Linked DNA regions of Homo sapiens: regions 1, 2, 3 and 5 are each linked to region 4. The links come from fine-mapping of genetic effects on gene expression. A gene starts in region 4. Each other region holds a variant in brackets. All regions are shown on one strand. Distances are between the middles of the regions. Region 1 overlaps F13A1 (coagulation factor XIII A chain). Region 2 has its middle 33 kb from the start of MIR5683. Region 3 overlaps LY86-AS1 (LY86 antisense RNA 1). Region 4 holds the start of F13A1 (coagulation factor XIII A chain). Region 5 overlaps LY86-AS1 (LY86 antisense RNA 1).

What was found. PIP is the estimated chance that this variant, and not a neighbour inherited with it, causes the effect.
Region 1: its variant is the best candidate, but not a certain one, in a credible set for the expression of F13A1 in nasal epithelium (TOPMed, PIP 0.76).
Region 2: its variant is the best candidate, but not a certain one, in a credible set for the expression of F13A1 in whole blood (INTERVAL, PIP 0.73).
Region 3: its variant is the best candidate, but not a certain one, in a credible set for the expression of F13A1 in whole blood (TOPMed, PIP 0.55).
Region 5: its variant is the best candidate, but not a certain one, in a credible set for the expression of F13A1 in whole blood (INTERVAL, PIP 0.79).

The regions. Positions count from the first base shown.
Region 1 is chr6:6,226,945-6,231,944 of GRCh38, forward strand. The region is part of intron 6 of F13A1 (coagulation factor XIII A chain); the gene reads right to left. Among named protein-coding and RNA genes, the nearest start is that of MIR7853, 60 kb to the left of the region's middle. The variant G/A (reference allele first, on the strand shown) is at 3,030.
Region 2 is chr6:6,132,874-6,139,294 of GRCh38, forward strand. No RefSeq gene overlaps it. Among named protein-coding and RNA genes, the nearest start is that of MIR5683, 33 kb to the right of the region's middle. The variant A/G (reference allele first, on the strand shown) is at 3,693.
Region 3 is chr6:6,381,039-6,387,459 of GRCh38, forward strand. All of the region lies in intron 4 of LY86-AS1 (LY86 antisense RNA 1), which reads right to left. Among named protein-coding and RNA genes, the nearest start is that of F13A1, 64 kb to the left of the region's middle. The variant A/G (reference allele first, on the strand shown) is at 3,527.
Region 4 is chr6:6,317,618-6,323,958 of GRCh38, forward strand. F13A1 (coagulation factor XIII A chain) reads right to left here and starts at 3,045. Exons shown (of 15, transcript NM_000129.4): 1 at 2,970-3,045; 2 at 918-1,065. The coding sequence starts at 1,047. The region is part of intron 1 of LOC124901253 (a long non-coding RNA gene); the gene reads left to right.
Region 5 is chr6:6,390,967-6,397,387 of GRCh38, forward strand. The region is part of intron 4 of LY86-AS1 (LY86 antisense RNA 1); the gene reads right to left. Among named protein-coding and RNA genes, the nearest start is that of F13A1, 74 kb to the left of the region's middle. RefSeq lists enhancers at 338-387, 1,336-1,505, 1,636-1,835. The variant T/C (reference allele first, on the strand shown) is at 3,356.

The DNA.
Region 1 (5,000 bases), 91 kb before region 4:
GAGGGAGATGACAGGCAAACTGGCCAGAAAAGGCCATCTACATAGTGGAAACAGTTTTAATAAATGTGTAGTGTCATGAAACAATATGGCAGGCTCTGGGACCTTCTAGGAGCTCTGCATGGGTATTATGTAAGTAGGCAATACCGAACGAAATAAAAAAAATACTAGAAGAAAACATGCAAGATGTGCAAGCATCTTTTACTGTGAATGACAAAGCCTTCACTGAAATTTGAGATTTACTCTAGCACTGAGTGGTATTTCCCAAGGAGGGTCCCTTCTGGGGAGTGTTGTCTAGAAGATCACTATTCAATTTGGTTTAGACATGCTATCTTCCCCCTTTAACTCTGTGTCCAGTCAGGTTAAAGTGAAGAAGAACTTTATGAACCACACAGTTAATTTGTTCAATGTAGGAAAAAATGAACTCTTTGGGGGTCTCTAAAAGACCTTGCTCAGCTAATTGCAAACTCATGCCTTTGATATAAATTTTGACTTTAGCTTATAGAGTCATGAAATGACTGGAGTGCAGCAGGCTTTAGCCAAACATTATGGCTATATTAAAGATCAGTACTTCTCCTTGCAGTTGGATTGATTATTTAAAAATCTGTATCCATTATCGTGAAGATTGAAGAATGCCTTGGTAGGCTATGATGTGGTTTGGTCTTTGTGGGTAGGTAGGTTTAGCTTTGAACTCACATTATCATTCCCTTATCACTGAGACATAAAATAGGCTCTATGAATTTCAGAGGTAAAGGCTCCTAAACTGTGGTCCTGATAACTGATTTTCAAACAGATAGCCATTAATTACAAGGGCTATTTATAGCATAGGGCTGAACTCAATCAGCTAAGGGGAAGAGTAAGGAAAAAAAGCTCTGTCCTCTACAGACCTTTTAATTGTTAATGCTGAGCTGTTCCCCTGTTGCTAGATAAATCACAACCCTCATTTATTAGCATTTGGGCAGATTAGCTACTGTTTTCTAATTAGAACATTGATTTCTAGGGAGCTCAGGCCATGAAAGAGGTAAGTTTTTAGTGACAGATGTAAAGGGTTAAAATAATATCTCCCCTCATAAGCAACAAGATATGTTTGGAGGACATGTTTGTCATTTTTCATGCCACAGTTGGCTGTTTTAACACCCTCTCATGATCTCAGGGTTTGACCAGTGGCAGAATAAAGTGTCTTGGTCTTGAGTCACTGGTGGTCAAGTAGACAATACAAGTCCAGGACTACGTACAGGAGGCATTATTCAACTTCATTAAGGCTACACTAAATTGCCCTCCCATAATACCTACAAAATTAGAAAAAAATTTCAAAAACCCCTAAAAGTCATTATCAGCATAATGCAATAAACTTCAAAACATGGTCCCAACAAAACATGAGGACTATGGAGTAAAGCAGAGAGGCAACATGGCTCAGCTCCTAACCTTAACCATCTTACCAGCTAGTCAACAAAAACCTGAGATTTCTAATTTATATTTTAAATTCTAGAAAGTAATAAATATAATCAAAATGCTGATCTTTTTGGCCAGGCATGTAATCCCAGCCCTTTGAGAGGATGAGGCAGATAGATTGCTTGAGGTCAGGAATTCAAGACCAGCCTGGCCAACATGGTGAAACCCCATCTCTACTAAAAATACAAAAACTAGCTGGGCATAGTGGCACATGCCTGTAGTCCCCGCTACTCTGGAGGCTGAGGCAGGAGAATCGCTTGAACCGGGGAGGCAGAGGTTGCAGTGAGCTGATTGTACCACTGCACTCCAGCCTGGGCAACAGAGTGAGATCCTGTCTCAAAAAAAAAAAAAAAAAAAAAAGCTGATCTTTTTATTGTTCTGAACAGAATGGTGGAAACACCTGCTGTGGAGAAACGAGTGAAAAAGTATCTGCACCTTAAAAGAGGTAGAGATTCTGGAACACAATTGGGAAATAATACAAGCTGAGCGTATCCCCCAATGGAACTGAGATATGCCTCCAGTTGTGGGGGTGGGTTCTGGAGTGACAGATGTAGGAGAATCTTAAGGGAAAGAGCAGACCCTAAGCATGATACCAAAGATTGTTCATCTTCTAATACTGTAGTCCTCACTCCAATCTCTTGCAGAGTACTGAAGAGTAGATAGAATGTGGTACATTGGCCTCAAATTGTAGTTCAGAAGTGAGATCAAACTAACCTTAGATTGAGAAGAATTTCATTTATTACAGCAAATAGAACGTCTAGAGACAAGAATGATGCAAGTTTGAGCATAAATATAGGGAAAAGAAACTGCATGCAGAGGAAGAGACAGAAAGAGAGAGAGGGAGAGATCATGAAAAAATATACATAGAAGAAAACGAAATTAAGGAGCATAAGTCATTTTTCTCACAACCTTTTAGGAGATCACAGACCAAGGCAACAAATTGAGGACCAAATCATACCATTACAGAGCTAATAATAAATTATAAACTGCAAGAAACAGAATACATATTATTAAAAATAAAAATTAATGACATAGAAGAAAACTTGAGATATCAAAGAAAATACTAATAAAAAACCAAAGTGATGAATTATTTAGAGAGATTCTAATAGTACCATAGTTATGGAAAACAAAGATGATACAACATAAGGATGATTAGTGTCCTTAAAATAGAGAACCCAAGGATTTGGATCATCATGGTGGATGGGAGGCAGGACTGGATTGCAGCTCTGGACAGAGCAGCATGTGGAGGCTCGTGCTGTAAATTTTAGATCCAGGTCGACTGCAAGAACAAACCAGCAATCCTGAGAGGACCACAGACTCTCTGAAGGAAGCAGACTGCTTCTGCAGGACCCGAGAGACCCCCCCAAATACTGTGAGTGTCCCAACTATGCAAGTGGGAAAGGGAGACCCTCCTCTCCCGAACACAAACCTCCACTGGAGAAGCTGAAGGTCTGTTTGTGGGAGAAGTTTCCGACTTCACCTGGTGCTGGGTCAACTTGGAGAGCTGAGGGAAATACAGGGGTAGAGGAAGCAGCAGAAAGGCCCTGGGAGCTTGCTAGGTCCCCTAGCAGGCCATCCCT[G/A]CCTGGCACCACAGAGATCCATCAGAAAGGTGGACAGAGGAGCAGAGGATAAAACTCCACATGGAGAAGGAAATCTCTAGCTGAACTTTGTAGCAATTTGAATGGGGTGAGAAGCCTCCTGGCCAAAACTTGGGGGAGGGTGCAAATCCGGTGTGCAGACTCCACAGGTGTGGAAGAACCAAACCCTTTTCTTTTGCAGCTGGGAGGTGGGTAGACCGGGTCAGGTTTTCAAGGCCATCTTGCCCTCTGCCTGGAAATGGACTTAGGGCTGTTGAGGGGGGCACGGTGGGAGTGAGACTGGCCCTTTGGTTTGCATGGCAGCTGGGTGACTCCTGTGACTGCCAGCTTCCCCCAACTTCCCTGACAACCTGCATGACTCAGCAGAGGCAGCCATAATCCTCTTAGGTACACAGCTCCAGTGACCTAGAAATCTCACCCCCATCCCCCACAGCAGCTGCAGCAAGACCTGCCCAAGGAGAGTCTGACCTCAGACACGCCTAGCCCAGCCCCCAGTTGATGGTCCTTTCCTACCTACCCTGCTAGTGGAAGACAAAGGGCATATAATCTTGGGAGTTCTGGGGCCCTGCCCACCACTGGTTCCTCCCCATACTACCACAGCTACTGCTCTCTGGAAAGCACCACCTCCTGGCAGGGAGCCAACCAGCACAAAAATAGAGCATTAAACACCAAAGCTAAGAACCCTAACAGTGTCCATTGTACCCCCTGCCACCTCCACCGGAATAGGCGCTATTCCGGTGGCTGAGAGGGACCCAGAGATGGCTCACATCACAGGATTCTGTGCAGACAATGCCCAGTGTCACTCCAGAGCTGGGTAGACTTGCTGGGTGGGTAGACCCAGAAGAGAGACAATCACTGCAATTTGGCTCACAGGAAGCCACATCCATAGGAAAAGGGGGAGAGTACTACATCAAGGGAACATCCCATGGGACAAAATAATCTGAACAACAGCCTTCAGCCCTAGACCTTCCCTCTGACAGAGCCTACCCAGATGAGAAGGAACTGTAATATGACAAAACAAGGCTCTTCAACACCCCCCAAAAATCACACTAGTTCACCAGCAATGGATCCAAACAAAGAAGAAATCCCTGATTTACCTGAAAAAGAATTAAGGAGGTTAGTTATTAAGCCAAACAGGGAGGGACCAGAGAAAAGTGAAGCCCAATGCAAGGAAATCCAAAGAATAATACAAGAAGTGAAGGGAGAAATATTCAAGGAAATAGATAGCTTAAAGAAAAAACAAGCAAAAATTCAGGAAACTTTGCACACACTTTTACGAATGCGAAATGCTCTGGAAAGTCTCAGCAATAGAATTGAACATGTAGAAGAAAAAAATTCAGAGCTCAAAGACAAGTTCTTTGAATTAACCCAGTCCAAAAAGACAAAGGAAAAGGAATAAGAAAATATGAACAAAGCCACCAAGAAGTCTGGGATTATGTTAAATGACCAAAGCTAAGAATAATCGGTGTTCCTGAGGAAGAAGAGAATTCTGAAAGCTTGGAAAATGTATTTGGGGTAATAATTGAGGAATACTTCCCCGGCCTTGCTAGAGACCTAGACATCCAAATACAAGAAGCACAAACAACACCCAGGAAATTCATTGCAGAAAGATCTTTGCCTAGGCACATTGTCATTAGGTTATCCAAAGTTAAGACAAAGAAAAGAATCTTAAGAGCTGTGAGACAGAAGCATCAGGTAACCTATAAAAGAAAACCTATCAGATGAACAGCAAATTTCTCAGCAGAAACCCTACAATCTAGAAGGGATTGGAACCCTATCTTCAGCCTCTTCAAACAAAACAATTATCAGCCAAGAATTTTGTATCCAGCGAAACTAAGCATCATATATGAAAGAAAGATACAGCCTTTTTCAGACAAACAAATGCTGAGATAATTCACCATTACCAAGCCACCACTACAAGAACTGCTAAAAGGAGCTCTAAATCTTGAAGCA
Region 2 (6,421 bases), 180 kb before region 4:
TCCTTGAGTGGCTGGAAACTGCATTTGTGGGAAGGTCAGCTCATGGTGCTTGGTTTTGAGATAGAAAATGAAAGTTCAACTTCTCTCTTTTTCTGTATATTTATCTCTAAATTTTTAAAACCTGGCCTCATCCCTGAACTCCAATCCCAGTAACAAAAGGAGCTCTGAGTGACAGAATCTTTCCTGCAGAGTTGTTTAAAGCTACTTTGGTGGTAGTATGGGAAAGAGAAAAGGACTGTTTCTGATTTTCTGATTATTGTCTTCTGCACGGGAAAATGGGAGGTAGGCTGCTGGGAAACTTGGTTAGGATAATTCAGGTTAGGATGATTTATTTCCAGAGGGGAGCAGATAGACAATGGGATATGTTCAAATGAGCTATGCTCAATAGTGAAGTTCTGATTCTCATTTTATCTTGACATCTGTTGTCTTTGATATTATTTGGGCTTGTATGCTGAGGACCCAGTATGGTGAAAAAGGAAACAAAATGCCTGAAGAAAAAGGGCTTTGGCATTTTGGGAGCATAAAAAAATTATTGAATGGGGGTAACCAATAACAGGAAGAGCCTGAACTATGGAGTACCAGGGAGAGTAACAGTTTTTCCCTACTCCATTAGATGACCATTAGGATAATTCATTCATTCAATACATGCTTATTCTGTACCAGGTAGCAATGTATACACCAGAACTGCAGAGCTCCTATAAAAAGTGGATGCTTGCCTAGATAGGCTCTGTTTTAGTCATTTGGGACTGTAGTCATTATTGGCAAAGGAAATCATCATGATGGGTCAGCCAGATACTACAATTCCTTTCAACCTTTGGTAGAAATTGTCAGGGAAGCCATGCCAGGCCACAACAGAGGTAAAAGAGATAATCAACTTTAGGCATAGAGGGTATGATTTTCCATGTGTTAACATGTGGTCTGCCATCCAATCTCTGTTTTATTTACTTATTTTTATGCACACTGAAGCAAATTCCAATTGATATGGGCAAATATTACTAATGAAGAGTGTTGGTTTTCCAAGTCCTTTTCCAAACTCTATCTATAATGTGCTACTAAAGTGAGAACAGCAGTGCCTCCCTCTCTGGCATCCAGACATTGTTTTTTGAGCTAGGGAACTTAAGCCTTTGACTAGGAGGTCAAAGCAGCTCAGTTGAGTCTGGTCAGATGGTGTCCTGTCAGGAAGTAAATCTGGAAGCTTGATGTTAAAGAGGGAAAAGCCCCAAGAAAATGAAATAGGACTCAATACATATTCATGGACAGCTTCTTCAGCCAAGGAAGAAGAACAATATGAAACAAATTAAAAAAAATTTGTATAGCCAGACCCTGTGGCTTTATCTTGGCAATTCTAAGAATAATTTTCTTCTGTTACTGTTATTGAAGCATAACTAAGATGGTCCCCAATGATCCCTGCCTCCTAATATCCATGTCCTTGTATAGTTCCCAACCTTTGACTGTGGGCTGGACTCACTGACTCACTTTTAGTACATGGAATACAACAAAAATGATGGGCTGTCACTTCTGAGATTAGGCTACAAAAAGATTTTGGCTTCTCTCTTGCCTGCCCTATCTTGCTCTCTTGATTTCTCACCATGATGAAGCCAAATGTCAAGTTGTGAGTTGCCCTGGAGAGATACTCGCATGACAAAAAACTAAGAGTGACCTCCCACCAGCAGCTAGCAAAGAACCAAGGCCCTCAGTCTACCAGTCTGTGTGGAACCTGTGAACAAGCTTGAAAGCAGATCATGTCCCACTCAATCCTTCAGATAAGACTACATCTCTGGCTAGCTGATGGCAGCCTGGTGAGCAAACATGAGCCAGAGGACCCAGCTAAGTCATGCCTGGATTCCTGACCTACAAAATTATGAGCTATAAATATTGTTTCAAGCAGCTAAGTTTTGGGGTAATATGTCACAAGAGCAATAAATAATGAATATAATAATAAATGTGTATTTCTTTTCCTTTTTCTTTGAGATGGAGTCTCACTCTGTTGCCCAGGCTGGAGTGCAGTGGCACGATATCAGCTCACTGCAACCTCTGCCTCGTGGGTTCAGGCAATTCTCCTGCCTCAGTTTCTTGAGCAGCTGGGATTACAGGCACATACTACCACGCCTGGCCAATTTTTGTATTTTTAGTAGAGACGGGGTTGCACTGTGTTGGCCAGGCTGGTCTAGAACTCCTGACCTCAGGTAATCCCCCCGACTTGGCCTCCCAACATGCTGAGATTATGGGCGTGAGCCACCGCACCCAGCCTAAATGTCTATTTCAATGAAGTTTTACAACACCCAGATCAAGAAATGGAATACTTCTGGTTTCCCAGAAGCTCTCTTGTGTCCCTTGAGTCCCTCTTCCAAGGGTAACCACCATCCTGACTTCTAACCTATAGATGAGTTTTGCCTATTTTTGAATTCTAAATAAATAGAATCATGTTATGACATGTACTATTTAGTGTCTGGTTTCTTTATTTCAACGTTAGGCTGCAGTTCTTTCATCTTGTAATATTTTATATAGTATTGTATTTTATGGAGCTATTTATCTTATTATATATTTTTAGTATTCTCATTGCTGTGTTACAATTAATTGTAAATATGCCACGGTTTATTTGTCCATTCTATTTTAGCATATTTCTATTGGAAATATGCCTGGGAGTAAGATTACTGGGTCATAGCATTTGTTCAGATTTAGCAGATAATGCTAAATAGATTGCCAAAGGGGTTGCACCAATTTACACTTTACCAGCAGTGTCTGAGACCAACTTTTATTTCACTATGTCAGCAGGCTTCTTTGCTGCCTCTCAGTTTAGCACAAGACAAATTATCCCATGGTATTTTAAAAGCATACTTTATTGGTAATACTACTACTAATAATAAGAAGAATAACAGTGATCATAATCTTTTGGATATCTAATTGCCTGATATGTTAATTTTCAAAAAGCAAGATACAGTCAGTACTTCATTATATTTTATATTTTATCTGTATTTAGAATGCATGGATACCATGGTTATCTTTAAATTAGACTTTTAGGAGATACCCAGGATTAAAGAAAAGAAATGGTAGAAGTAGAATGCTTTTATATTTAGATGATTTAAACGAACTTGGGCTTTTCTCTTTTTTTAAGCTTAACTTTCCCAGTTAATAGCCTTCATTTTCTGGTTAGTATTGCTAGTTGAAGATATCACTGAAGCCTATTGTTTTTCATCAGAGAGACAGGTTTTATTGTATTATATCTATTTTTCAATTTTGCATCAGTAATAATATTTTGTTGATCTATATGAGTTTTTAGCATTGTGTACTCAATAAAGATAATTGGAATATTACTGAAGATACCCAGCATTTCGTTTTAATGATAAGCATAAAAGGCAGATTCCTTTATTTGAGCCATAATTTTTGAATTCATGGTTATAGCCAAGACGACAGAATCATATGAGCTTAGCCTGTGTCTATAATAAAAGTAATGTATATAAAAGCAAATTTGGAAGTAGCAGGCCAATACATGGGTGCTTCAGCCTCGATAGGCTTGGTTTGGATAGGGAGATGCTTAATGGTTGTGTTTACTTGTCACCTGAAAGTCCCTGGAAAATAGAGATGTTCAAATTTGAGGTGTGGGTAACATTAGCCATATGGGCCTACCACCTGAAACTGTAAAGAAACAGTGAATAATAAAATGTCATCAAAAGTAGGAGAATAAGAATGTC[A/G]TTGTGGCAGGAAAACATTCAAAAACCACATTAAATGCTATGGTTCACAATAGAAGGACATCCTCTATGAAGTTTAGGAATCTTTCTTCTGAGGAAAAAGAAATGGAATGGCAAATCAGATGCCCTTCCCCTTCCTGAGGGCTGTGTCATACCGATTGATGGGAAAGAACAATGAAGATTTACCAGAGAGAAGCACTCCCAGTGTATTCTGTCAGGGACCTCAGGAGACCACCTAGACTTGGGCCTTCCGTGGGTCTTGGGCAGTGCGTGCTCTGATGAAAGGGTTTACACAAAAACATGGGGTCTCAGCTGTGGCATAAATTGTCCTTGTAGAAAGAGTCTGGGCAGGAGAATGGCTGGTCATTGTGACCTCCGGTGAGGGCTGAGGACAAATTGCTAGAAGGCAAGATGGATCTCGGGTCACTTCTGTCAGTCATGCCAAAGTGCAACTGACTTCCTACACCCATGGCTGGTTTCTGACTCGCCTTTATCAGAAACACTTGGTTCCAGGCCATTATTATGTTTACTAATTCCAGGGGCTGCAGATTTTGGATTTAGGTATAACCAATATAAAAGTAAATTACTTTATTCTATTTTGTTTCACATAGTTTGAGCTATATCAGTATAAATCTATGTGCACATCAAGACATTTTTAAATATCCAAGAAGAAAAAAATAGAACGGGAGCTTATGACCAGACTGGCCATTCCTGAGTACTTCAGTTCCCAGGTAGGCTGGGTTCGTGGGGCTGCTAGTGAATCTGGTATCTCTTCAAGATTCTCCACAGGAAGGCCTCATTTCCTAGGTTTTTGTGAAAAAGAAATGTCATCTTTCATCACTGTGCTCTCTCTCTCATCTTCAAGTTATTCCTAATGGCATCTAACCAAATCTTGGTGGAGATAAGGATGGTGAAAGGCCCATAAAACCACAATTTAGCAGGAAGAGTTAAAGGAAATGGCAATGTTTAAACTATTATGCTTGGGAGTACACATTAGGTCTCCTGACATATGTGGAGGCTTCTGAGAGGCAGCATGCTGCATATCTGTACATAGTCTTCAGAAAGAACAGATAAAGTTCAAAAACACTAAGCATTTCCTCGAAGCAAAAAATAGCATTAACCAGTAAATTTCTCTCTCTCTCCTGAGATTGTTAAGCTTAGCGTTCTGGTAATGTTTTACTGCATTACCAATGACCTCAAACTTAGTGGCTTAAAATAACAGTTAACAACAACGGATTGCACATTTTAAAATAGCTTGAAGTGGGGACTTGAAATATTCCCATCACATGAAAATGATGAATGCTCATGGTGATGGATACCCTAAACTTCTTGACTTGATCATTATACATTCTATGCATATAACCCCATAAATATATATGTATATTATATATCAATCAAAAATTAAAAACCAACTATTTAATCCTATCTCATCATTTGGTGGAACAGGAATTTGGGCAAGGCTGGGCAGGGTGATTCTTAAGTGACATTGACTGAGGTCACTTGGTGGTGTTCAGGTGGTGGATGGGCTGATCTGGAGCGCCCAGGATGGCCTCATTATCAGGTCTGGTGCCTTGGCGGAGGTCGCTGGAAGGCTGAGCTCAGAGCAGGGTTGAAGTGTGTATACCCGTGGCTTCTCCAGCATGGGAGTCTCAGAGTAGTTGAGCCTTTAGGCAGAAGCTCAGGGCTTCTACGAAGAGGATTTCAAGAGAAAATAAGTGGAAACTGCCAGTTTTCCAAGGCTTGGAGCTGAGAACTGGCAGCATTGCTTTTATCACATTCTTTCAAAGCAGTCACGGCCCACCTAAAATCAAGGGCAGGAGAGGGAATGTGGTCCCCATTTCTCAATGGAAAGAGTGACAATCATTTTATGGTCATTTAAAATCTGCCACCTTTATAACAAATCCTAAATCTGGTGGTAACATATTTTTCATATTGTACCTTCCCACTGTCTAAACTTGCTCAAATCAGAAAAGAGAGGAAAGAATCCTCTTCGTTTATAGGTACATGCTGTTTACTAATAGGAAATGCTCATTAGGACCCCTTATGTTAGTTTTGGGACTATTGAAACGTTACTTAGGTAATTATGTAAGTCCTAGAACAATGATTAGTGTGAAAATGAATGGGAGTTCATGAGTAGTATCAACAGCTAGTTTACCAAGTATCTTTTAAAAATGTTCATTGTCTTTAGAGCTAGAAAATGCTGTGTATAATTCCTGGCAATTGAGGTGAACACAGTTTCCCTGTCCCTTTTCCCGATGCAACTGAGGCGCTTTGTTTCTCATTTATTTGTTTGTTTCGACAAAGTAATTTCTTACAGACACACTAAAAGGCTTTTTGTTTGTTTCATTCTTATGTAGAAAGGAAGGTGCTTGGGAAGGCAAACTTGAGTCTGAATGAGTTGGGGTGGTGAGAACAGAAGGACGAACTTGCCTTAAGGTGTGAAGGAATGTCTCTAGAAGCAGTTCATTTCTTTTCGATACTGGGTTGGAGAGAATTTTGCCTCAAAGACAGACATAAGCATGACCTGAGGGGCAAGATTCTGGGTCTTCAGCGCTACCTGCTCATGGTGATTTTACTTGGCTGCCCTAGAAGGAACTTGTCTGTCTACACTTCTATAGTTTCTGACATAGACAGCTCTCTGTCTCTACATGCTATCTCTCCCACTTTATCCACTTGAGCCTCGTATGTCTCATTTCCCTTCCTTGAATCCAACTGTGGCCACACCCCCATTC
Region 3 (6,421 bases), 63 kb after region 4:
AGTCTGGTATTTTGTGTGTTGCAAATATGTCCCCTTTCTATCAAGGAAGATCTGCATTGATGCTCTGATCCCAAATGTATGTGCAACATGAGAGAAACTGAAGATTTGTCTGGAAGACCCAGACTTGGATCCAAATGGTGCAGTTGGAATAACTTCCTTCAGGAAGATAATCCATACTGATGTGGTTTATGGCTGACCTTTAACCACAACCTCATGGCATGTCTTCGTTCTCTTGAAACCTGCAGCAGAACAAGCCTCATGCTGGAAAAGCCATGGCTGACATGGGCTTCTCCCCTTTGCTAAGATTCACGAAGACCCAGAAAATTCTACAAGTATTTACTGAGCACTCATCATGCACTGGGAGTGGTGCAAGACACAAGATAAATAAAACTGGGGCCTCCTGCCCCTGGAGAACTTACAAGTGAAGGATGATGGACATACAAGCAGCTCCACTAAGCCAGATGGTGTTTTGCTCAAGAAACTAAATGCTATGGAAGTTTTATCTGTGAGGAATTATATTTCATTACGAATAAAAGAAGTCCTAGGGAAAAGTGGCTCAAACAAGTAAGGACTTTATTTTTCCTATACAACTAGAATTCCAGAAGTTCATGGTTGCTGGTGTTGCTTCAAGGCTTCAAAGATGTTAGGGTCAAGGTCTTTGCAACAACTGTTTTCCCCCAGCTTTATTAAGATGTAATTGACCAATAAAAATTGTATACATTGACAGTATACAATGTGAGATCTCCACCTATGCATACACAGTGAAATGGTTAAATCAAGGTGTTTAACATCTCCATCACCTCCATACTTATTTTTATGTGGTGAGGACATTTAGCATCTGCAACAATCTTGATGGTCCCTTGTAGTTTCAAAGTGGTTACTCTAGCCACTGTGTCACATTGTGTTTTAAGGAGATAAAAGAAGGAAGGAGGAAAAGAGCAAAAGGCAGACCAATGCCAGCTGCATCTGCAGCCCATTTTAGAGGCTTTCTCCTTGAATCCCACCCACCTACTTCCATTAACATCTCACTGGCCAGACCAGTGCTCCATAACCTCTGGGCCTAGAGAGAGGCTGAGAAATGCATTTTTTTTTCACCTAGGCACTTTGCTGCTCATCCCTCCAACAAGAATGAGAAGGAGAAGTAGAGGGAGAATAGATTTGGGGTAGGCAAAACAAACAGAGAGCAAGGAGAGGTGTGTTCATCTGCAATGGCTCATTCCATGTTGTTAGAGGATGTGAGGTGTGAGCTGAGTCCAGAGGCAAGCAGTGTGGAAAGAGCAGTCTATGCAGAGGGGTCATCACCGCAAAGACAGAAGGTTCAAGACCACAGATCACATAAGAACCTCCGAGGCTAGGGCTTAGCATGTATGGGCAGTGAGAGAAAGTACCAGAAGATCAGTTAGAACATGCAGATGGGGGCTAACTGGTGAGTTTACTAGTTTCCTAGCGCTGCCATAACAAATACCATAGCCTGGGTGCCTTAAATACCAGATTGATTTCCTCACAGTTCTGCAGGCTAGAACTCCAAAGTCAAGGTGTCAGCAGGGTTGCTTTCTCCTGAGGCCTCTCCCCTTGGCTTGCACGAAGCTGTCTATCACTGCATCCTCACATGGTCACAGATGTATGCACACATCTCTCTGCATGTCCAAGTTTCCTCTTCTTATAAGGATACCAGCGACATTGGATCAGGGTCCACCCTAATGGCCTCAGTGTAACTTAATCACCATTTTAAAGGTCCTATCTTCAAATATGGTTGCATTCTGAGGTATTGGGGGTTAGGCCTTCGACACAGGAATTTGGGGGTGGGAGGGCAAGACATGACCAGAATTCAACCCATAACAGGGAGAATCTTAAAATCTAGGCCAAGGAGTTTGTGTTTTGTTCTGTATGCAAGAGGAAGACAGCAGACGTTCTGAGCGGGGAGAAACATTATTAGAGTTATTATTTTTTAGCAGGCTAGTCCTTTGTTCCCATTGTGTAGGATGCATTAGCAGCACGGAAACCCAAGGGAAACCATGGCTTTAGTGAGGGCAAGAGGGAATGATGATCTGAATTAGGGCAGTAGCAACAGAAATGCAAATAGGAAATGCAGTAGGAGATAAATCCAAGAGACACTGTGGGGGTAGAATAACCAGGATTTGCTGACTAATTTGATATCATGGTGCACATGAGGGAGGAGTTGGAGGCAATGCTGAGGTTCCTGAGGCCAGGCAGTGGAGTGTGTGGGGGTGGTATTCACTGACATGCTGTGAAGTAGAGGAGGCCAAGTTCAGTTTAGGACATGACCATGCTTATAAGATGTGCATATGACACTAGGATGGAGCGATCAAAAAAGCAGCTGAAAATGTGGGTCCAGAGCTTGGGCATCACCAAAAGCCTTATTTTAAACAACAGGTTGGCCTAAGCAAACTTTTGAGTAGGAAAATTTGTCCCTGATGTCTTTCCACCCCCTGTCACATTCTCTCTGCTATCCTTGGGTCCTAGGCCCACATGCTCTCAAACTGCCCTTCCTCCTCCTCCTGAATGCAAACGCCCCTGCACTCCATCAAGCTCCAAGTGTTCCTAGTCACGGAGAAGGAAGAGAGAATGATAATCTCCCGAAGGAAAGCCTGGTGCTTTTCAGGCAGTGTCAGGGGGAAGAGAGGAATCTCAGCCTGAGGCTGGGAGGCATTTTCACAGTCAATGTCTTTTCCTGCTGCTCCTGAAATCACGCTATGCCACTCAGCCTTCTCAGAGGACTCTGAACCCAGAAATCAGACTTTGACCATCTGCTTTTGGCTGCTTCTGAGAAAAAAGGCCTTAAACCTTCAGATATGTACTTGAAAATAAAGAATGCATACCATGGATTTGTGTGTGTCAAATGGGTTTGGTTCATATTTATAAACTTGACTTTCCTGAAGCAATAGATTGCCAAGCAGCCCTGTGCCCTGGGGAAAGATCACTGATGCAACCATGCCTCTAACAACATTTAATCTGAGTTACCTTTCTGTTTGCAGCCGAAGAATTCTCTAGAATGGCTTTCTTATTAGGATTAGGCATGGGTCAATGTCTGTCAAATTTTAGGTGGCACTAAAACTCCGTAAGAAAATGGATACCTTTCCATTTCAAGCATGCCAAGCCCTGGTCTTTGGTGAAGAAATAGACACATTCTCACCCAAATACAAATTCTGTTTCCCACGCACCTTCTCTGGGCTGTATTTCCTTTGGGTAGTGTGGCGCGGATCAGCCCTTGGGCTGCCTCCCAATTCTGGAATCTATTATTGCAGCAGAAAGGCCAGACTGCAGCTTCTTCGAGTTTTCTCATCGTTCTCACCCTGCCTCAAGAATATAGGTCATGGCATTTGTGGATGCACCTGTGGGACACAGTCACCTATATTCTCCTGTGGGCGCCCCCAAGGGATGGGCTTAGTTGAGATCTGTTGTCCCTGTGCAGGAACCAGCTCTGAGCTTGGGCAGAGAGATATGTCTTACACAGAGAAGAAGGGAGAGGAGAAGCAGTAAAAGAGAACAAGGCTGGAGTCAGCTG[A/G]GGGAGACTCAGTATAATTGATTGTTGCTGCCCAGGGCCTCTTTGGCCTTCACCCCCTGGGAGGAAAAGGTGTTATGCACCCCTCAGGTGCACAGGGCAACCCAGATGCAACCCTGAGGACTATGAAGAAGGAGACAGATGTAGCTCTGCACCTGTTTCTTTTTCTCTCACAAACCGCATTTCTGACATTCTTCACCCCACAGCCAATGGGAGTGATGGCTCCTTTTATCACTTGCAGTCTGACCTGCTGGCTGAGGATCTGAACTTGCAAGCTCATTTCTTTTCAGCTGTGGGTTGTTTGCAGTGAAACGATACCAACTGCCCGCTGAATTTCGGGTGGTCGTCGGCCACGGGGCTTTCAGGATGCTCCCCCTAGCCAGCCAGCTCAGAGTCTCAGTCCCCTTTTTGCTGACTTCAAATAATGTTCTAGCAGCTTGGAATCATTGCTTTCCCCCTTTCTGTTCAGGTTTGGGTGAGGCATTTATGTGTAGACAGCCCGACCCCTATTAGTTAGAATGAGAAAATACTAGGGCTGTGAAGCTCAGATTTGATGCTAAATTAATTCACCAAGTTCTTGCTTTTCTTATGGATAACACGATTCTGGAAAAAAAGATCATTGCATTCTCAACGTCTGCTCTGTCCAATACAGGAGCAACTAGCCTCATGTAACAATTTAAATTTGAATTAATTAAAATTACATAAAATTAAAATTCAATTCTTCAGTCACACTGGCCACATTTCAAGTACCCAATGGCCACATGTGGCTAGCTAGCAGCTACCATGTTGAAGAAGCAGACGTAGAACATTTCATCTTCACAGAAAGTTCTATCAGACAGCACTGATCCAACAATTCCATTTCTGACCTTTGACTATGAAATGCAACTGCTTCTTGGCCCTATGACCCTTATACCAAACACTTGGATTTTGTCTGATAACAACAGATCACTGGTGGCAGGATACGTTTAATGTTCATTATTGTTATATTGCTGTTATCATGATGATTTATAATTATAGAATACCTGCCAGGTTTTTAACTAATTTCTTTCCTTATTGTTTCATGGATCTGATTTGCTAGTGTGAATTAATAGCATTTATGGAATTTCCAAGGTTACTCTCCTTCTCCAACAGCATCCCCGTTGCTGACATTGATTCATTTATTCTTCGTGCATTCACTAGATGCTTCTGAAGGGTGTGTTCCCCACGCTTAGATGGGGGTGACATTTGTGAATTCACCTGTGGGACACAGTCACCTATACTGTCGTGTGAAGTACAGACACTGTAACATTCTATTTCAGAGCTGGGGCTCTGGTGTCCACTATGCAGCTTTGCCACTTTCTATCTGTGTCCTTCATTTTCTTATCTGTAAAATAAGGATAATAAACATATGGAGCTCTAGAGATTATGAAGATTAAATGAGCTAAAACATGCACAGTTCTTACACAGAAGGTGTTGTCTACTAGATAGTCTAACATGTTATTTTAATAATCAGCCTGTTCATTTTCATTATTGTTGATATGGGTTGATATTTTAAGTCCAATTCTTTTCTGGCCAATCATTCTACAAAAGAAATGAGGATCCAGAACGGGGATTGTGGTTAGTGTGAATATGTAGCTTCTTCCCAGAACAACCATTTCGACAGTTCCTGCAGCGTGGTGAAATTTCCTGTTCTTTGTTTTGCTGCTTTCTCTCCATGGATAAAAACTATGAGTAAGCTGAATAGTGGTAGCAAGCAAGCAAATAAGAAATTAGATTCTGAAAATGCTTGTTCTTCTTTTACAGAAGAACAGAATCTGTTTTCAGTGCCTGGAGCGGAGCTTATTTATTTATATATATATTTATTTATTTATTTTTCTAAAGAACAGAGCCTGTTCTAGAATACCCACTCAGCATGGCATTCACATCTTTTCTGAGTGACTTCATTGGAAGAAGAATAAAATCAATAATGAAAAATAACATCATCTTTGTTTCCTGAGAGCACTTGAATTTAGTAGAAATTGAAGGAATTCAAAGCACTTAAAGAATTAGATTATTTCTTGAACCTACATCATCTATGGCAGGAAGTCAGTGTGAGCAGGAAGCGTTTACATTTAGGAAATGCTTTGGTGCATCAAGGTCACCTTCACTTCTACAGCCTGGCTTCTGCTCCACCTGTCTGGGTGAAGTGACTCTTTCTGTGACTTTCCCAGGAGCCACACAGTTCGTTCTCCCTGTTTGACATTGCTAACCCCCTTAATCTTCCTTGAAAATTTATTTCCAATATTCACTGCTTTGTTTCTGGGCCTGGCTTGTAGAAGTATCTACATTGAAGAGGCTTTCCTATTGAAATGTAATAGTGTCTCAGATAAAGACCTTGATGGCATGATATTTACATTTTTGGATACTGTGAAGCTGAGAAAATTACCTACAGTGATAGCTTACACAATGAAGACAATAAGAATCAGCAGATTGGAACAATGGATCAACTGCAAAATCTTCATCTTTGGTGTCTCTGAAACAACACCCAGATTGAGGATAGGGAAAAAGAGAACTGTGTTACAAGCAACGTAAGATGTCTTCTGTTTTTTGATAATAGCCACCCTGAGAGGTATGAGGTGATATCTTGTGGTTTTGATTTACATTTCTCTGATGATTAGTGAATTAATTTTTTTTTTTTTTTTGAGATGGAGTCTCGCTCTGTCACCCAGGCTGGAGTGTGATGGTGCAATATCTCAGATCACTACAACCTCTGCCTCTGGGGTTCAAGCGATTCTCCTGCCTCAGACTCCTGAGTAGCTGGGATTACAGGTGCCTGCCACCACGCCCGGCTTATTTTTGTATTTTTAGTAGAGACAGGGTTTTGCTAAGTTGGCCAGGCTGGTCTCCAACTCCTGACTTCAGGTGATCCTCCCCCCTCAG
Region 4 (6,341 bases):
TCAATCTGGGCTTTCAGGCATTGGTCTCCTTCTAATGAGGGGAATCGACCACACAGCTCCAGCATGACCATGCTCACCTATCCCAGCAAATAGGTGTTTATCCCCAGTGAAACCCAGCACAGAACACCCTTAGGAGTAAAATTAGATTTTGGTGCATGAATGTTATTGACAAAAAAGACTCCCTGCTCAATGCCACTCGGGGACATGAGTCTGAATGTCCCTGCCATGGCCCAGGGGAATGATGTCTGTATCACCAAACCAGTGCTGGCACCTGGACCTTGTCACCACTGACAGGGCTGAGAGGAGGTCAGCTGCCGGCTGCTGTACCCGGAACAGGTTTCTAGGGATCAGGCAGAGGCAAGAGGCTGGGGAAGCAGCTTGCCTTGCCAGCTCACCAGGCTGCTCTGGAGAGAAATAGAGGGCTTCTATCTCTATTACTGTCAGAGTCTGGCACTTCTCCCCGGCTCTGAAATTCACAGCAATGGATGGAGGAGGGAGGAGGGAGAAGGAAGGAGGTGCAAGCCAGACAATCAAAACAGCCACAATATTTTGGAAGTGGAATATTCCAGCTAGAGAAAATTCTCTAAAGCATTGAGCAGTAGGGCTGGAAGAGGCCCTAGCTAATCCAGCACTCTGGTTTTGTAGAGGAAATAGTTGAGAGGCAGAAAGACAAAGCAACTTCTCTGAGGTTACAAGGTCAGTAAGGGGCAGAACTGGGACAAGGCTCTGGGTCTTCGGTGCTTTCACCACTTAAAAGAAAGCTTTTGCTTTCTTCCTTTATAAAACCAGAGATTGGCAGGGGGCTTCCTTTTGTGGGAACCCCAGTGGAGACAGAGGATGTTTACCTGCAGGGAAGAGGGGCCAGGGCCCGGCTGTGCCTGGACCCAGAGTGGTGGGGAAGGGGGGTATGCTCATACCTTGCAGGTTGACGCCCCGGGGCACCACGCCCTGAAGCTCCACTGTGGGCAGGTCATCTTCCGCTGCATTAGAGTTATTGGGTGGAACTGCTCTTCTGCCTCCAAAGGCGGTCCTGGAAGTTTCTGACATTTTTGACTTTACAAGGTCCTTCAGAAAAAAAAAAAAAAGAAGACAACAGAAAAGGCATGTAAAGTGAGTAACATTTGAGACAAGGATTCCAAAATAGAGAAACAGATATATCTGTGTGTGATAGCACTTGAGCAACACATTTTGCCGTTTGCATAAATAAAAACTGAGAAGTGGCAGCAAGGATTAGTCTAATGATGGAATACAGTTCCCCAAGGATCTTGGGGAGATTTTTGTATGTGTCAAAACATATGGAAAGCAGAAGAAAAGGGGCTTATTCAAAGAAATTTAAAAATTAAAAGATTTTTGGAGACCCAGATTCCCCCACCCTCCATAATCCTACAGCAGCATCTTCGCAAGAAATGTTTCCTGTTATATGCATGTGCTGTATCTATGTTCATTTCATACAGATTTATGAGATTATAAGTCACTTTTAAGAATAAACGCACACAACCATGTCCAGACAAATGTTGTCTTCTAAAGCGTTTACATTTGCAATTTAATTCAACCAATATTTATTGAGGGCCTATGACATGCCAGGCTGTGATCTAGGTACATGGGATACATCAGAGAACAAAACAGAATGTTTGCTCTGATAGATTATAGTCTGATAGGGTTAGGGTGGAGCCCAAGAAGAGCCATAAGTAAATCCACTTAGGGGTGAGGAGGTAGGAACTGCTTTGGAAATTGAGCCACATGGAGGAGGATAAGGAGGTGGAGAGGTTGGGCATGCAATTTTCAATAGGGCTATCAATAGGCTTAAGAAGTCAGGGTTGCCAACATTTCCCATTCCCCAAGCCTGCTTCCCCTTCCCTTGGAGCTTGTGCAGGCACTGAGCCAGTTTAAACAACACACACCTGACGGTCAGTGCCCAGTAAGTACTTGTTGACCAAATGACCAAATGAAGGGGGACTTTGTTTCTGGGCCCAGTGAAGGTTCCCCCTTGATCCCCTGGATTACCCAGTCATGACTCCTGGAGACTTGGCTATTTTCAAAAACCAGGCACACCCCCAAGAGGTGAAGAGTCCCCATTATAGAGGCCACCAGAGTAGAGAGATGGTTCCAGAGACATGTGGAGCACTAACAACATGCTGGAGAAAAGACAACCACGCCTAAGGTGTCTGGTCTGAGAAGGAGACAGGAGTGTTTGGATGCATAAGGTGTGAATGGGTATCCATAAGTATAGATAAATATATTTACAGTCATTGGTGAGCTGACGGGGGAAGGGAGGGAGAAGAGCGAAAAAGGGTTAATGATAGGGAGAAGGCTGCGAGAGCCATCCTCTAGTGAGAAATACCGAAGGTAGGCTGCGGCATTGCCAGGGGTGCAGAACAGTGTGGCGCGCTGTCGGGAGACACAGTGCTAAGGGGGAGAAGGGGGGAGCCCCAGGTGCACGCCTGGCTGGGTGAGTGCGGCGGGCAGGAGCCCTCGCTTCTGGGCGGGTCTAAGGAGGAGAAGTGGCTCGAGTTCAGCTCCAAATTGGGACGGAGGCAGGCGATGCGCAGGAGTGGGGAGGCGCGCAGGAGTGGGGAGCCAAGCCGGCGGGGTTCCAGTCTAGCAGGCTGTTCTCACTTGGCCCCACTCCCTCCACCTTTTGTGTTCCAGCTCCATAATCTGCTCCCTGAGGAAAGGGGGCTCGTCCCTTGGGGAAGCACCTCCAACTCCCCCATCCCCATTTGGTGGCATTCTAAGCAAGCAACGGCTTCGGGAGAGCTGCCTCGAGAGCCTGAGAGAAGTCCCGCTTAGAAGCTGGGCTGGGCAGGTGCGGAGTTGGGGGCGGGAAGCCAGGATTGGGCAAGTGGAGCTGCCTGTGACCGGCGCCACAGGGCCCAGAGCAAGCCGCTTGCTGGTTCAACCAGGAAACCGAGGTGCAGAAGGTGGACGCAGCGGGCCCTGGCTCATAGGGTGCAGGGTCGGTGGCTTACCTGCAGGCGCTCCCCTCCAGAGGTGCCCTCGCGTGGGCTTGCTCTGTGCGCCTCGGGGACTTCCTCAAACGGACTCGGGAAAGACAAGACAGTTGGCTCTTAAATAACTTCCTAAGAGGAGCCCTCACCCTCCTCCCCTGTCCCACAGGGTTTTCTCCTCCCCCTTCTCCACAGCTGGAGCCAGTAGGGGAGCTCAGAGGATTTTCTATTTACTTCATCTGGCCTGTTATCCCGGCAGGTGCGCCCTTCTCTCCCACTTGCCCCTCTGACTCCCAATTTCCCATTCCCACTTCTCCTCCCCATCCCCATCCCTAGATCTGCCCTCCCCACCGCAACCAGTTGCTGGGAGTACCAGGCAAGGGGCCCTGCAGTGCCAGGAAGTCCCCACCCGTCCCCTTTGGTCAGAGGGTCTGGGAGGGTTTCCTTTACAAAGGAATGCTTTTGCCTGGCAGGTCAGCTGCTACTGTGGCTTGGCAGGAGGGGGGTCTGCCCTCCCACAGACAGGTCACACAGACAGTTGTGACCATGCATGCAGTGAGAGCAACGTGTCCCTCCTGTGCAAATAAGGCATGGTCTGCATTCCTGAATCATCCCAGAGCCACAGCCACCGCCTAACCACAAGACTTCCTGCAGGAATGGGATGCCTAGCCCCAAGGAAGATGAGTAAACATCTTTAATAATGCCATGCAGATTAGAAAATAACACTTGGTTTTCTCTGAAAATCATTTTAGTGCATGTTCAAAAATTAGAAAATTTTCCCCCTAAAATTTTAATTTTTTTCTTTTACTCTTTCTTTCTTTCTTTCTTTCATCTTTCTATCTTTCAGATGAAGTCTTGCTCTGTTGCAAAGGCTGGAGTGCAACCTCCACCTCCCGGGTTCAAGTGATTCTTCTGCCTCAGCCTCCCAAGTAGCTGGAACTACAGGTGCATGCCACCATGCCCGCCTAATTTTTGTATTTTTAGTAGAGATGGGGCTTTACCATGTTGGCCAGGCTGGTCTCGAACTTCTGACCTCAGGTGATCCACCCTCCTTGGCTTCCCAAAGTGTTGGGATTACAGGCGTGAGCCACCGCACCCAGTCAAACATGGCTATTTCTAACCTTCTTTACTGTCTTCAAATTTCTGACCCTGCCACTCAATCTCCCAATGTTATAAAGAAGAAAAAAAAAGATGCCATTGGTTAGAAATTCTCTCAATTTTCTGCTACCAATCTATGAACCTGCCTGCAACCTTATCTATCTTTTCCTCTTTCTTCTTGTTACTGAAGTTGGAAAGGTCCCTCCTCCCTCTGCATCTCCAAACCAGGCTTCTGCGTTGCCTTGTTCTCCGGGGCTTTGCTGTGACTCTTACGTACTCTTCCTCTTGCAGCTTCAAGCTCCTGCTTGCTAATAGTGGGTCTTCTCAGCATTCATGCAATTTCAGGTCTCTTCAGTATTTTTTTAAAAACCTCCCCCAACCTATGTCCCCACTCCTGCTGTTACTCCTCCTCTCCTCCCCTTCATCACTAAGTATCTGCCATCTGGCTTCCGCCTCATCATTCTACTGAAAGTGGAGGTCACGGTCTCCAAGGCCTGTGCTCAGGCCAAAAGACAGGATTCAGTTCTTATTTACCTGACCTTTTGGAAGCATTGAACTCTGTCTTTGAAGGTATTTTTCCTAGGCCTCCTTGACATTGAACACTCTGTGGTTTCCTCCAGTGCAGCGCAATATTCCTTGATTGTCTGAGGAACTCCCATAGTTTTCAAATTCCATCTATATCCTGACACCTCCCAAATCTGGGTCTTTAGCCAAGATCTTTTCCAGAATTGCAGATTCCCGTATCTAAGTGCCTACTGGCTATCCTCATTTGTCACATCCCAGTGACAACACACGCTCATCATGTCTAACATGAGATGTATCACTTTCCTGGAAAACCTGGTGCATCTCAGGAGTTCCCTACCTCAATGAATACCATCACTTTGCACGCAGGTGGTACACCAGACACATGGGCATCATTCTTGAGGCTTCCTTGTTTCTCTCCCTCAATCATCAAATCCGATCCTTGAGCAAATATTTTCTATCCTACCTCTTAAACAGCCCTTGAATCTACCCGTGTATGTACCCCTTTCCAGTCCATTCTCTACAGTGCAGTCAGAATGAGCATTTCAGGGCTAAAATCCGAAATCAAATTATTTGCACAAAGCCCTTATATGGCTACTTCTCTTTGCTTTTTGGATAAATTGCAAGCTGAAACTGACAAGGCCTATACAAGCTGGACCCTGCCTCTAGCACTGCTCTTTCCCTCAGCATCCATACAATTTGAGGTCTCCAGTATTTTTAAAAAACCTTCCCCCAACACCAATCTACCCTCCCTGCCTTCCACTGTTGTTTCTCCTCTCCTCCTCTTCATCACTAAGCTTCTGCCATTTGGCTTCCATCTTTCTTCCCTATCATCTTCCTCTGCCATCTTTCTTCCCTGCCCAGTCTCCCTCCACTGACTCCCCAGTTGTCTTGCAAGGAGTTTGCCTTGTTGTAGTGCTCCTCACACTGCATGATCATTTTCTGTTTCCTTGGCTGTACCTGCACTAGAGTACAAAAAGGTAGGGACTCCAGCCAGAGTTCCCTGGAGAGAGGCTGCTGACCACTTAACTATCCAAAGGCCGTCTTTGCCACATCCCTTGCTGAGTGCTAGAGAAAGACCCTAAAGATGTCTAGCACTGCTTCCCCTCAGCATTCATACAATTTCAGGTCTCCTCAGTATTTTTAAACCCTCCCCCAATCCTTAACGATCATATTCTGGTAGTTCTCCTGGCAAACATCAAATCTGAGTGTCTAGAATTCCAAGATACCCTCATCCATGTGGGGTTGGAGGATGAGCAGCCACCCTTGCACCCTTCAGATGAGGTTACGCAGATGCCAGGTACCCCTGGGACTTGGGGTTGAGTTGTGCATTCAGAACAGGATTGTCACCCTCACAACCACCTCCACGGTGTCACTTTTGGCCTTAGACTAATTATTGGCTTTGTGAACATACACACACAGTGGTTGGCTTTCTGACTCCCCCAAACCACTAACCTCAAGAGCATCATAAATGCAATGGCTTTCCTTGTGCTAAACAAAGTCGATAAAAATGTGTCTAAGCCACCAAGCCCTAGAATGCGGTTGAAGCCCATTCATTTTACAGGGTATTCCTCATGGTTATATGGCTGAGACATCAGAACAAAGGTTTCTGGTCACACAGTGAATCTTGAACTGTGCTAGGGATGCAACTTCCACAGGTGCATAGGCTCTGAGGTCCTTAAGGATGGGATGGTGTCTTTTATTTCTGAATGCCCCCTGCCTGGCATGGAAGTGGAGCCATGTAAATATTTAAGGCATGTAACAGACGGGGTT
Region 5 (6,421 bases), 73 kb after region 4:
GATGCCACTCCCTGCCACCAGGTCTCCATGGCCCCTCCCACACTTGGAGAGTGAGGGCTCCGGGGAGGGTGGCTCTACTTCACTGCAGAGAAAATGCAGTCGGTGAGAGAAAGAGATACACTGAGGCTCCAGAGAGTGTAAAACAAGCATCTCGTCACAAAACAGAGAGGAAACTAAGTCTGGGATTTATTGCTGAGTCCCTTCTTCTGATAAAGAAGCCAGAGGAGCATCAACATTTTCCTTGGAGTCGGGAGTCCTTGGCACCCTCTCTCTGCAGAGTGAGTTCCATCTGAAAACTCTCCTTGGCTGCTCATGCCAATCTGCCTTTCTTCCAAACAAGGACATGAAATCACTCTCTCTAGAACGCAGATTCCATAAGGCTCCAGAAAGAGACTAGGTTTCATTTTAGCCATCAAGGCCCTCTGGCCCCATGCGCTGTTAGCTGGGTGGCCCCTCTTGGCAGAATGACTTCAAAGGGTATTTCCCACCTAAAAGGCCAAATATGTTTTTATAGTTACACCCTCACAGCTTCATTCTTCAACTCAGTGTCTCAGTTCCCTTTTTGCTGATTTCAAATAATGTCCTAGCAGCTTAGACTTATTGCTTTCCCCCTTTCTGTTCAGGTTTTGGGGAAATATTATATTATATATATATTATATATTAATATATATAATAAATAAATATATATATATATATATCATATATATGTTAAAAGAATCAGACTGTAAGCCATTGCCAGTGCACCCCTCAATTATCGGTGAGTCTCTTTCTTAGGAGTCAGCAGTCACTCAGCTCCGTGATACTGCATCTGTGTTGGGCTACACATAAGACAATGATCTACTCCTGGTGTGTTTTGTTTCCACAAATGACTGCACATATTTCCAAATTTTTCAATTGCTTAAGAATAATTGCAGCCCCCAAAGGCCAGTTGTTTGCAAGTCATTTCCCTTGGCATAGACAATCTAATCCATGATCCATATTGGATGCAACTCTCCTGATGTCCTCGACACCCAGAATTTGCCAATACATGTTTTTGAAATTAAGAAGAATTAATACATGAGGCTGGGCTTCTCTAGTCCTGTCTTAATCATGGGTAAAATTCAGCATGGGCTGTATTCCTTTCAGCAATGCCCACGCCATGCCAGCTACTGGACTTGGAGAACTTGAGGAGTGAAGACAACAGGCAATTATCATACTGTAAATGTGTACTGTGTTAGGGATGGTATAGGCAAGACTCAAATCAGCACCTTGGCACCATCAGAGCTAGTTTAGCTGTTTATAGCTCAGACTCATTTTGGTTGGTCAGAAGAGACTCCGACCTAGCTGGTGGGGGCAGTGGGACAGTTGATAAGCCCTGGAGGATTTGTCAACACCCATGGGACCAACAGAGGCAACAAACTCAAACTTTTCCAGTGAGGATGAAAGCCACACAACCCTGTCACTGTATCTTTGGGCTGACCCTCTGACCTCTTAGATGCTGAATCCACCCCTGCCTTCCTGTTCCTGCCACTGCTGTCTTCCTCACCAGGCCCTTCATGCTTGCCTCCCATCAACTGTCTCAGGTCCTGATGCCTGGCAGCCACCCAGACCCAGTATAGCGTATTTTGTCCTCGGGGCTTTTCAGAAGCCTTGAGCTTCTTGACAAACTTTCGCTCCAGTTGGAGGGAGGTCATGTGGTACAGAGAAGGGGCCTTGGAGTGCAGGATGAGAGTCTGAATTGTAGCCCTACCTATGAGAACCGTGGGAACAGGGGCAGGTCACGTGGCATTCTCATCAGTAAACTGAAGATGATAACATTTGTCCCAAAGGAGATCACATGAGATGATAGTGTAAAAACAGTGTGTAAGCCACCACAAGTCTTACCCAAATGTGAGGGTCTCACCTAAGCCCTTTGGAGACTGAAGCTGCACTGAAGCCCTATGCAGACTGAAGCTCACACCTTTGCAGCATCCTGTTTCAGTTCTGCAAATCACCCAATGACTGAGAGGTTTTCAAAACTGGCAAACTCCTATTGCCCATGGGAGATCTCCATGGGGATTCCCGCAGATATCCCTTGAGTCTTTCTGGCTAACTGCTACCTATTTTTCCCCCTCCTGTCTCCTGGATTCAAGGCTGAGTTTGATGCTCCTCCTTGGCTTGCTGACGGCACCCAGAGCATGCCTCTATTCAAGCACAGGCGTGGCACAGATTTTCTGATCTGTTTCCTCTATTCAAGCACATGCGTGGCATGGATTTTCTGATCTGTTTCCCTCTGTAAATCCCTTCGTGGTGGAGACTGTATCTTTCACTACTAGGTGAAAGATACCTTTCACATGTTAGGTCCTCAGTAAATATTTCTTGAACAAATGAATGAATGAAATTCTCACTCATCTCGAAAGTGTACATTCTCTGCTTTCTCTGAGCAGCCTTTCAACACAGTATGACCACAATAATTCTATTTTCTCAGTGGAATTGCACACCTTGAGGGTAGACACTGTCCTGGCAATGGCTACTATATAATAAGATGCAGGGAAGGAATTGCAGGCACCACTGGTTTCCCTCGCATGCTCTGTTATTACAGTACTCCTTTATTACAAGCTTGGGTTTTGTGTTTGCAGATGCAGTCACGTGGCAGAACCAAATCTCATAAATATATAGGTAACGTGGTAACCAAAAGACTCCATTTTGGAATGGCTGGAGTCTCTGAGACCTCTCTAGATGTAGTATAATGTAATGATTAAATGCCTGGGCTTTGGAGTCGATTAGATAGGCTCAAATCTCACTTCATAAACTATGTAATCTTAGGCAATTTCCTTAACTTTGTTGCCTCATTTTTCTCATCTTTATAAGCTTTGTGCTCCTCACATACTTGTTCTGAGAATTAAAGAAGATAATACATATTAAGCAGTTAGCACAGTCCCTGGCACATAGGAATTATCCAATATCTACCATATCTACCAGTTCTTTCTTTCATCATTGTTATTATTTTCATCATTAGGAAGTCATCTCTTTCTTCCTTTTGGTGGCATTCCCTGGCACCTCTCTCCCAGTTTTAAGGATCTCAAGGGCAGCATATTCCACAAGACTTTTAGTACCTCTGGTAGCATTTGTGGATTTGTGTGTCTGTGGATGTAGATATTTGGAAAAAAAAATGTCAAAACTCTTTACCCTCAACAAACCAAGAGTGTTTCAACAAGTATTCAATGACATCTCAGTCTCTTATCAACAAAACAATCTCAAATATTTATTCTTTTCCCCCCCGCTGATGTCTGGTCACCTCCTTCCCCTCCAGAACCACATGTGCCCTGCAGGAGGACAGCATTCTGCCATCTAGAAAGTTTCTATGCATTTCTCCTGCCTTTCTGAACAGGCCCAC[T/C]GCCATGGAAAGAGAAAAATGTACTCCATTCTCCTGATTTCCTAATGCTGTGGACATGTGGGTCAGGGAGAGTAATTCCTATTTCACTTTTCCTTTCTGTGATTAAACAGCCAGGCCATGGTGCATGACCAAAGTTAAGCAGCTCTCCTCACCTGTCTCCAAAACAAGTCTGCTTACAGATGTGGGCCACATCTTGACCTCTTAACATCAACCACAGAGCAAGACCTGTACCCTAGAGATGCTCAGAAATGTTTGGTGAGTGAAAATGATTGGGTGAAGGAGTAAACAATTAAGAAAGCCAGCAGGATGAGTTGCATTAGCCATGAATTGCACTCGTACTGGATATCAGGGAGCAAACACAGGCTTCTCTGGAAAAAATGCTCTTTCTTTCACTCTCTATTATAACAAGAAGAAGAAGAAGAGGAAGAGGAAGAGGAAGAGGAAAAATGGTTGGAGTAGAAAAGGAGAAAGCAGATAAAGAGGAGGAGGAAAAAATAGAAAGGGATTAGACAATTAAACACGTTTTGCAATTCCATTTCTATGTGTATATTGCTTTACAGTTTTCAAGGTGTCTTCAGTTTCATTTAACACAATATATTTTTATTAAACAACTACATAACATTTGTAACAATTGGCTACAAATTGAATAGGACACAGTTTCTGCCATCAATTCAAAATGATCCTGAAAAGTATAAAGGCCACTTATTTAGATTATGCCTTGTTTTATGATGAGCAAACTGGAGCTTGCTCGGAATGGAAGATTACGAATATTACTTGGCCAAGAGCACAGAGCTTATCAGTGAGGGGATTGGACCTAGAATTCGAGGTCATATTCTCTACCCATACAAGGCTGCATCCTTTATCCTTTATTTAGACCAAGCAATATTCAAGCACTTGCAAACCATATGAATGTTCCAAATATGTATACTGGACACCAAGACTTTATGCACATCCAGTATCTCATTTGTTGTGAACTTTGTTTTTATAATATAATTTACTGCCAAAAATCTGAAAAGTGAGGATTTGATGATATTTATAATCCACATCTACACAATTAAGAATTAACAGCATTCATCTCCAGAATGTAATAAATATTAAATCAAGCTTTTATATGTGGCTAGTAGCTATTTGCCTATTACATTAGTTAGGCAAACTCATTTCAATACTAACATTTAGATTTAAACTATAAACTCTAATCATATTAAAAAGCAACACTGTGCCAAATCTTGAACTGATAGCAAATACTGATTCATATACCAAAATCAGAAGCTAAATTCCACGGAACCACCAGTGAACTGTTTTGAGCATGAATTAAATAGGAAAATATTGGACTTGAAAATTAAAATAATGTCCACAACTAGGTGTCAATCATTCCAACATTCTATTCATTTTAGCCCCTGTAATTGAGCAGGCAAGCTCTCAACAGGAGGATGGGCACCTGCTCACATAGTGGTAAGTACTGGCCAACCTTGCAGCCAAGTCCACCAGAATTAACAAACTTGACCTTGTTATTCAGTAACCAATATGGATTTTAAAAAGAAAGAAAAAACAATGAAAAACATTCATGATTTAAATGGGAACCATTTTGTAAAGAACAACTGCAAAAGCAAATTTTACGTTTCACTGTGTTGCAATCCAAAGTAGCTGAGAGTACTGCTCTGCCACTTCTATTTTTGTAATGTCACACGCCCACAGAGAGTTCACAGGCACGTAGCTGGAGGAGAGACTGGTTCTCCCTTTTGTACCACTACCCTTCGGAGACAGGCATTGGAATTGCTTCTGCTCAGGAAGGCTAATAAACATAGTAACCAGAAAAAAGAAAAAAAAAAAGAACCCAAAGCAATCAATCAATCAATTAGATTAATGGATTAATTTTCACTTAGGCCAGAATTTGAGTTATTTGTTGAGGACAATGCTGGGGAGAGTTAGGGAATAAATCAAGAAACAGGTGGATTTGAGAGGGAAGGCAAACTGGGTGGGGTTAGTGGAGTGACCTGCTATATTCGTTGGCAAAAGCCTTCTGATCATTTTCTTTCTCCCACTTCAAACAGGCTTCTGTCACCATCACTCCACTGAAAGTGCTTTTGCCAGGATCCCAATTTGAAAAGTGAAATTTCCTAATTAAAGGAAGTGGTTGACCCTGCAGCGTGCATATAGATGTGATCCATCGTCGTTCAGGTATACAACATGACTGCCGCCTCTCACACTTAGGCAGGGACCAAGGCTGATAGAATTGACCCTGTTACAGAAAAACTATCCCATCATATGAAGAAGGCACCAGTAAGCTATTTTCTTTCATTCATTCATCAGTTCATTATTTATTCAACAAACATTTGTGTCCATAACATCCAGTCTAGTTCTAAGCGATAGCGATGTGACTAAGCATTTGAATAAGACTGAGGTGATACTTGCTCTTATGGGGCTCACATTACAGTAAGCCAATAAAAGAATAAATGAACAACATAATTTCAGATAGAGATAAGCACAAAGAGCAACATGGGACAGGGTAATGTGGACGAGATCTGTCTTATATTGCATATCAGGAAAGGCCTTCTTGAGGATGCCATATTTAGTAACAAGAAGAACTCCTGCATGCTCTGTCTAAACCACCACCTGCCCACACCCCAGTAGCAACACTCCCAGAGTTGCCCATTCTCCCTCTCGTAGCAGCACATTTTCCATCTCTGCCAAATCATTCCTGTCTGTGTGCAATTTACCTACAGTATCTCTCAATTGTTAAAAAATACCCTCCTCTTGCCTTCCCTCCCCTTTCAGATTCCACCCCATTTCATTTCTCTACTCTCCTTCACTGCAGAAATCTACTAAAAAGACTTTCATCCTTTTTCTCCACCTCTCCTTCCCTTCTTTCTTGAACCTGCTTCAAACAGACCTCTTTCCACCACTCCAATGAAACTGCTCTGGTCAAGTTCTCACTGACCATCAGGTGGCCAAATCCTGTGGTCATTTTTCTGTTCTCACCTTGTCATTAGTGCTCAGTCCCTATCCCCTGGCACTCACCACTCCCTTATACACGGAGGTTTGTACTGTAGCCGTCTGGGACTCTCG